2 separate regions of the Homo sapiens genome follow, and region 2 is linked to region 1. The links come from fine-mapping of genetic effects on gene expression. A gene starts in region 1. The other region holds a variant in brackets. All regions are shown on one strand. Distances are from middle to middle.

Region 1 (2,913 bases):
ACTGCAATATATTTTGGTCTTCATTCCATGTTGGTATATTCTTTTTAAAGGCTATATAGCAGTTTACTGCATTTTAAAAGTTAGAAGACATTATACACATTTAGATTATTTCCAGTGTTTCATTATTGCAAGCAATACAGCAATGAACAATTATCTATATTATACATCATGGAATTTGAGGGGGTCATAGAATATGAACATTTGAAATTTTCATATGTTTTACCACTTTGCCTTGTAAAAAGGTTGTGGTATGATTCTTCCACATATACACCTGTACTGGATGTTTCCATTCGTTTTCAGCTTTGCCAAACATTATGGTGGGGAAAAAAAGATATTTATCTATTCGACAATATTTAATGGTCATTTATTCTGTGCCAAGTCTCTAAGGACATGCGATTACAGCAGAAAACAAAACAAAGCCCCTGACCTCATGGAACACTAAACAGAGGGCAGTGACATCAATGTAAATGTTGAGTGCTAGGAAGAAAAATAAAGAAGGATAAGATGATTCGGCAGGGTTGGGCAGAGCTCGCTATTTTAATTGTGGTGGTCAATAGGATGCCATTCAAGCTGAAAACGGAAGTAAGGGTAAAAACTAGGCAGACATCTGGGGAAAGACAATCAAGGTCCCGGGGAAGTAGCATGCCTGGCACATTGAATGAAGAGCAAGGAGGGTGGGGAGGCTGGGGCGGAGTGAGCAAAGGAGAGAATAGAATAAGACATCAGCGTAGGACCTAGGGAATATCTTTATCATGATTGCAAGCCTTCTGCGCTGTCTGTAATAATAATATTATTATTTTTTGAGACGGAGTTTTGCTGTTGTTGCCCAGGCTGGAGTGCGATGGTGCGGTCTCGGCTCACTGCAACCTCTGCCTTCCGGGTTCAAGCAATTCTCCTGCCTCGGCCTCCCAAGTAGCTGGGATTACAGGCGCCCGCCACCACGCCCGGCTAATTTTTGTATTTTTAGTAGAGACAGGGTTTCACCATGTTGGCCAAGCTGGTCTCGAATCCTGACCTCAGGTGATCCGCCCACCTCGGCCTCCCAAAGTCCTGGGATTACAGGCGTAAGCCACGGCGCCCGGCCTGAAATAATATTAACAACAGCAAAAGATCATTTTGCAGGCCAGGCACGGTGCTCACGCCTGTAATCCCAGGACCTTGGGAGGCTGAGGCGGGAGGTTGGCTAGATCCCAGGAGTTCGAGACCAGCCTGGACAACAGGGCGAAACCCATCTCTACCAAAAATTAGGCGGGCGTGGTGGCGCACGACTGTATTCCTAGCTACTCAGGAGGCTGAGGTGGGAGGATTGCTTGAGCCCCATTGGTCGACGCTGCAGTGAGCCGTGATCGCACCACTGCACTCCAGCCTGGGTAACAGAGGGAGACCCTGTCCCCGCCCCACTAAAAAAAAAAATCATTTTTAAATTGCAACCTCCCATCTCCATCTGCAACAACTCCCCGTTCTCAGCTCAACTGATAGGTAACCTCTAGAGATGGCTGTAGTACAAGAATGAAAAAAGGTACTCATTCATAAATCTGATCCATAGTGGTGGCATTTCCGGGAAAAACGTTCCATACCCCTACCATCCGGGCGACCCCAATTGCACCTGGCGGACCAGGCAAGGGCGGAAAGGAGCAGCGCCTGCGCGTGGTGAGCGCGGCCCCGCCCAGCCCGCTAGTGGGCGGGCAGAAACTGGCCACAGAGCAGTCTCCGGAAGCTGCCTCTGGCTGCTCTGTTAACGTGTCCCGCGAGCGAGGCGCGTCGCAAAAGGTCGCGGCGGAACTTCCCTGCGCTTTTCAGACCATACTCTTTACGGTACTAGGCACTGCTGAGCTGGGAGATGTCGGCGGCGTGTTGGGAGGAACCGTGGGGTCTTCCCGGCGGCTTTGCGAAGCGGGTCCTGGTGACCGGCGGTGCTGGTTTCATGTAGGTAATGGCGCCGCTAGCCAAGCAGTGGCTCCCCAGAAACCCCTACCTTTTCCCGCAGCTCTGCTTGCCCTAGGTAATTTGGGTCCAGCTTTGAGGGGTCCTTATTCTGATATGGGGAGGGTCCTAATGCACGACCTGGACCAGCTTTTCTCTCTCTGGCCTGCAAAGAAGTGGTTCCTTTGAAACTGACTTCTTTAAAACGCCTCTTCCAAAGCTGCGTTACTCTCCGCCCTTCTGTGGCCGGAGGTGCTCACCATGTCACTCCTTGAGTGCGTGCAAGTTACCCTAAGCTGCTCACCGACTGCTTCCCACCTCCAGCCTAGAGCACCCACACCCCACGATGGGCCCTGTACATATAGGCACCCCCAAAACGATTTAAGGACTATAATAGGACATCTATGTAATCAGCAAACTTTTACAAATCCACTGTTGACACCCTTTTCTTCCTCAGACCCACATTCGAGCAGCAAGTCCTCTCTACTTCCAAAGTATATCCTTACGGCGACCACTTCTCACCAGTTTCCCGTTTCCACCCTAGCCCATGTTTACTGTCATCTTTTGCCTCGACTGCTGCTGTAGCCTCTTGGTTGGCCATAACTGCGTCCACTCATGTTCCTTTAAAGCCTGTTGCTCACATACAAGTCAGTGTTTCTTAAGTCAATCAGATCATGGTAGAAGCAGGATTTTACTTCAGTGGTTCCTGCCACACTTAAGAATAAAGCCCAAACTCTACCATATCTAGAAAACTCAAGTGCCCAAGCCCTACTTTTGCAACCTGATCTGCTTTTCTGTACCTGCCATGCTTCCCCTCTTAGTTCTTGGAACACACCAAGATACACACTTCTGTCTTGAGGCCTTTGCACTTGCTTCCCCTTTCCTTAGGCTGTTTGCACCACTCAATTCTGGTTTTTATTCAGATAGCACCTCAGAGAGTTCTTACCTGACCACCATATCTAAAATAGCCCCTCTCCCAACTAGCACACT
Region 2 (2,913 bases), 570 kb before region 1:
ACAGAGAATGTCCCAGTTACACTATCAGAGGAGAACCGTTCTGAAGGAAAAGTTGGTTTTCAGGCCTATAAGAATTACTTCAGAGCTGGTGCTCACTGGATTGTCTTCATTTTCCTTATTCTCCTAAACACTGCAGCTCAGGTAAATAATGACATTTGTTTTGCGCCCTCAAAATGATATTTACAGTACCTATGTTTATGCTATTATGACTGCATCTTGCAGTTCACTTGGGGTCTGAATTGAAATGTGCTGTCTTTGGGGAACAAAGTGAGGGCTGCCTACTGGTGTTCCATGTCCGTTACAAAGACCTGCGAAAAAAGGGTATCTTTCAATGATTTTAAAATGGAATATGCATTTTCTTGAACCCTTGATATCTGGGAGTTTGGGCTTGGCACAGACCTGAGCTGGAAGAACTATGCGAGTTCTCTGAGCCTTTTATTCTTTCTTTCTTTCTTTCTTTCTTTTTTTTTTTTTTTTTGAGATGGAGTTTTGCTCTGTTGCCCAGGTTGGAGTGCAGTGGCGCGATCTTGGCTCACTTCAACCTCTGCCTCTGGGGTTTAAGCAATTCTCCTGTCTCAGCCTCCGGAGTAGCTGGGACTACAGGCACATGTGCCACCATGCCCAGCTAGGCTAATTTTTGTATTTTTAGTAGAGATAGGGTTTCACTATGTTGGCCAGGCTGGTCTCGAACTCCTGGCCTTAAGTTGATCCGCCTGCCTCAGCCTCCCAAAGTGCTGGGGTTTACAAGCATGAGCCACCACGCCCGGCTTTGAGGGCTTTCTTTCGGTTGTCCATGTTAGCGATTGAGAGTTTTGAGTTGGTAAGTCATGCCCAAGTTTGATTTTTGTCTTTGTTGTTTCTCCCCTCCTAGGTTGCCTATGTGCTTCAAGATTGGTGGCTTTCATACTGGTAAGTTATTTCTGGTCTGATGTATGAAATACTCCAAAATCAGTAAGAAGACTCGCTTTTCCATAGAGTTAGAGGGAGGTGTTTGTTGATCCTTCTCTTCTAATCCTCACTTCGTTTACCCGAAGAAAAATTAGAGTGCTTGCTGGTGGAGTGTAAACTGCGGTGGTCTCCACCCATGTCTGATCCGCGGCATCATGTTCACAGACAGTTTCGGGAACTGAAAGTTGTGATTTAAATTGAATTTTTATAAGGTAGATATACACAAGACTAAGTGAGCTGAGAATCATTTTCCAGCATGAAGCGTTTCTCCCAAATTGTGGTTCATTTTTAAAAAAATGTATTTATCTAAATTTCATATATAGCTTAATATTTTTTTCTCCCCATGTTCCATAGGGCAAACAAACAAAGTATGCTAAATGTCACTGTAAATGGAGGAGGAAATGTAACCGAGAAGCTAGATCTTAACTGGTACTTAGGAATTTATTCAGGTAAAGTTTAATCATTTGGTGTATTGTATGAGAGGCTGAGGTGCTTACAATGAGCCTGTGTGAGTAACTAGGGCTTCCAGGAGTCATTCAGTAATGTCTTAACAGATCAGGAGTCTCAGTCGAATTTA[C/T]TCTGTGAATTAATTAGAATAATTATTTTAAAAATCTACTAGAAGAGAGGTTGACTGAAGACTCTTAATTTGCTCTGTACTGGATTTTGAAAGTTAAACCAGGATTGAGCATTCAGAAAATCAGCCACTGGAAATATGTGGCTATTGTCTATTCTAATAGGTTGCTTTAGCTAAATCTTATATCATTATACGGATGGGCAGGGGGATTAGAAACGGATCTCCACCCTGTGGTTCGGATGGTTCCAATTCTGTCTAAATAAACCCTGGCTTTTATTGAACTTGGATGAAATCCTCTGGCAGCAAGGCCCCCAAAATAAAAGCATTATTCCCTCCCAGGTATGCAAAGCTCCCTTCAGCACTGCTCATCTCCTGGGCTTCACTAATTACTTAAGAGGGAAGCTGAGCAGGGAAAAATCCAGTGTCTGGGAATTAGGATGCCTTCTATTTCTTACCTTGAGATCACAATGTTATCGCGTCCCCAACTGTGTGATTAATTTAACATTTGGCTTGCCAGACTAATATTAACGCCACACTCTGTTTTCACAAGAGTGCTTAGAATGTATGTAGCATTACATACTGTTTAAAGAAAATCTTCATCTAAAATTTTAAATATTTCCACAGGAAATGCTCCTACAAGCTTTCCTCAGAGATAGAGTGAGTTATCTTTGTAAGAACCTACTCAGTGAAATTTGGTGTTTATTTCATCGATCGCTTGCTAAGAAATCTAAATCTGTTAGGTGTTTACCTTCCAACTGATGGACTATGTGGAAACTAAAGGAAGAAGGAAATCTATTATGTTCTATTATGTTCGTGTAGGATGGCAGGCTAAGGATAATGCCCGTTGATGGAGTTAGGAATTTGAGCTGCTTTCAGAGGTTAAATAACAGTGACATGTCATCTGAAAGGGAAATATTTGTTATAGAAGTTACCCCCACTGTATTTAGCATTGTGAATGAAGAGATGTTAGGAAAGCTCTTTTAATTTCTATGTGAATAATGGATCCTCATTCATGTCTTAATAAAATGTATGATTTATTTTATTCATTTAAAAATGTCTTGTGTCTATGTAAAACAGTGGGGGATTAGTTGCTTATTTAGATTAATTATCTTATGTTAAAATATAATTTGTGTTTTCTTGCAATTCAATTATTCAAGAGGTTTTCCACATGCAACTTAATACGGTATTTTTAAATTCTTTAAAGCTACTTGGGCATTTTCTACAAGGAAAAGGTAAATCATTTCTCCTATTCCTTGTTAATATCACATGTTGGTATCAAAACATACCACCTTTTTTAGATTATGGGACATAATGTAAGTAATAAGATTTGGAATATGGAGAAGATCAACTACACTTCATGATTATCTATCCTACTTCTGAGTTTTTAATAG

The links. PIP is the estimated chance that this variant, and not a neighbour inherited with it, causes the effect. A credible set is the group of variants that fine-mapping cannot tell apart.
Region 2: its variant is the best candidate, but not a certain one, in a credible set for the expression of TGDS in pancreas (GTEx, PIP 0.52).

Annotation. Positions count from the first base shown.
Region 1 is chr13:94,595,064-94,597,976 of GRCh38, reverse strand. It overlaps TGDS (TDP-glucose 4,6-dehydratase), which reads left to right and starts at 1,825. Exons shown (of 12, transcript NM_014305.4): 1 at 1,825-1,926. The coding sequence starts at 1,841. RefSeq lists an enhancer at 1,652-1,961.
Region 2 is chr13:95,161,606-95,164,518 of GRCh38, reverse strand. ABCC4 (ATP binding cassette subfamily C member 4 (PEL blood group)) reads left to right here. Exons shown (of 31, transcript NM_005845.5): 16 at 1-141; 17 at 872-909; 18 at 1,303-1,397. Among named protein-coding and RNA genes, the nearest start is that of SNORD13G, 47 kb to the left of the region's middle. The variant C/T (reference allele first, on the strand shown) is at 1,526.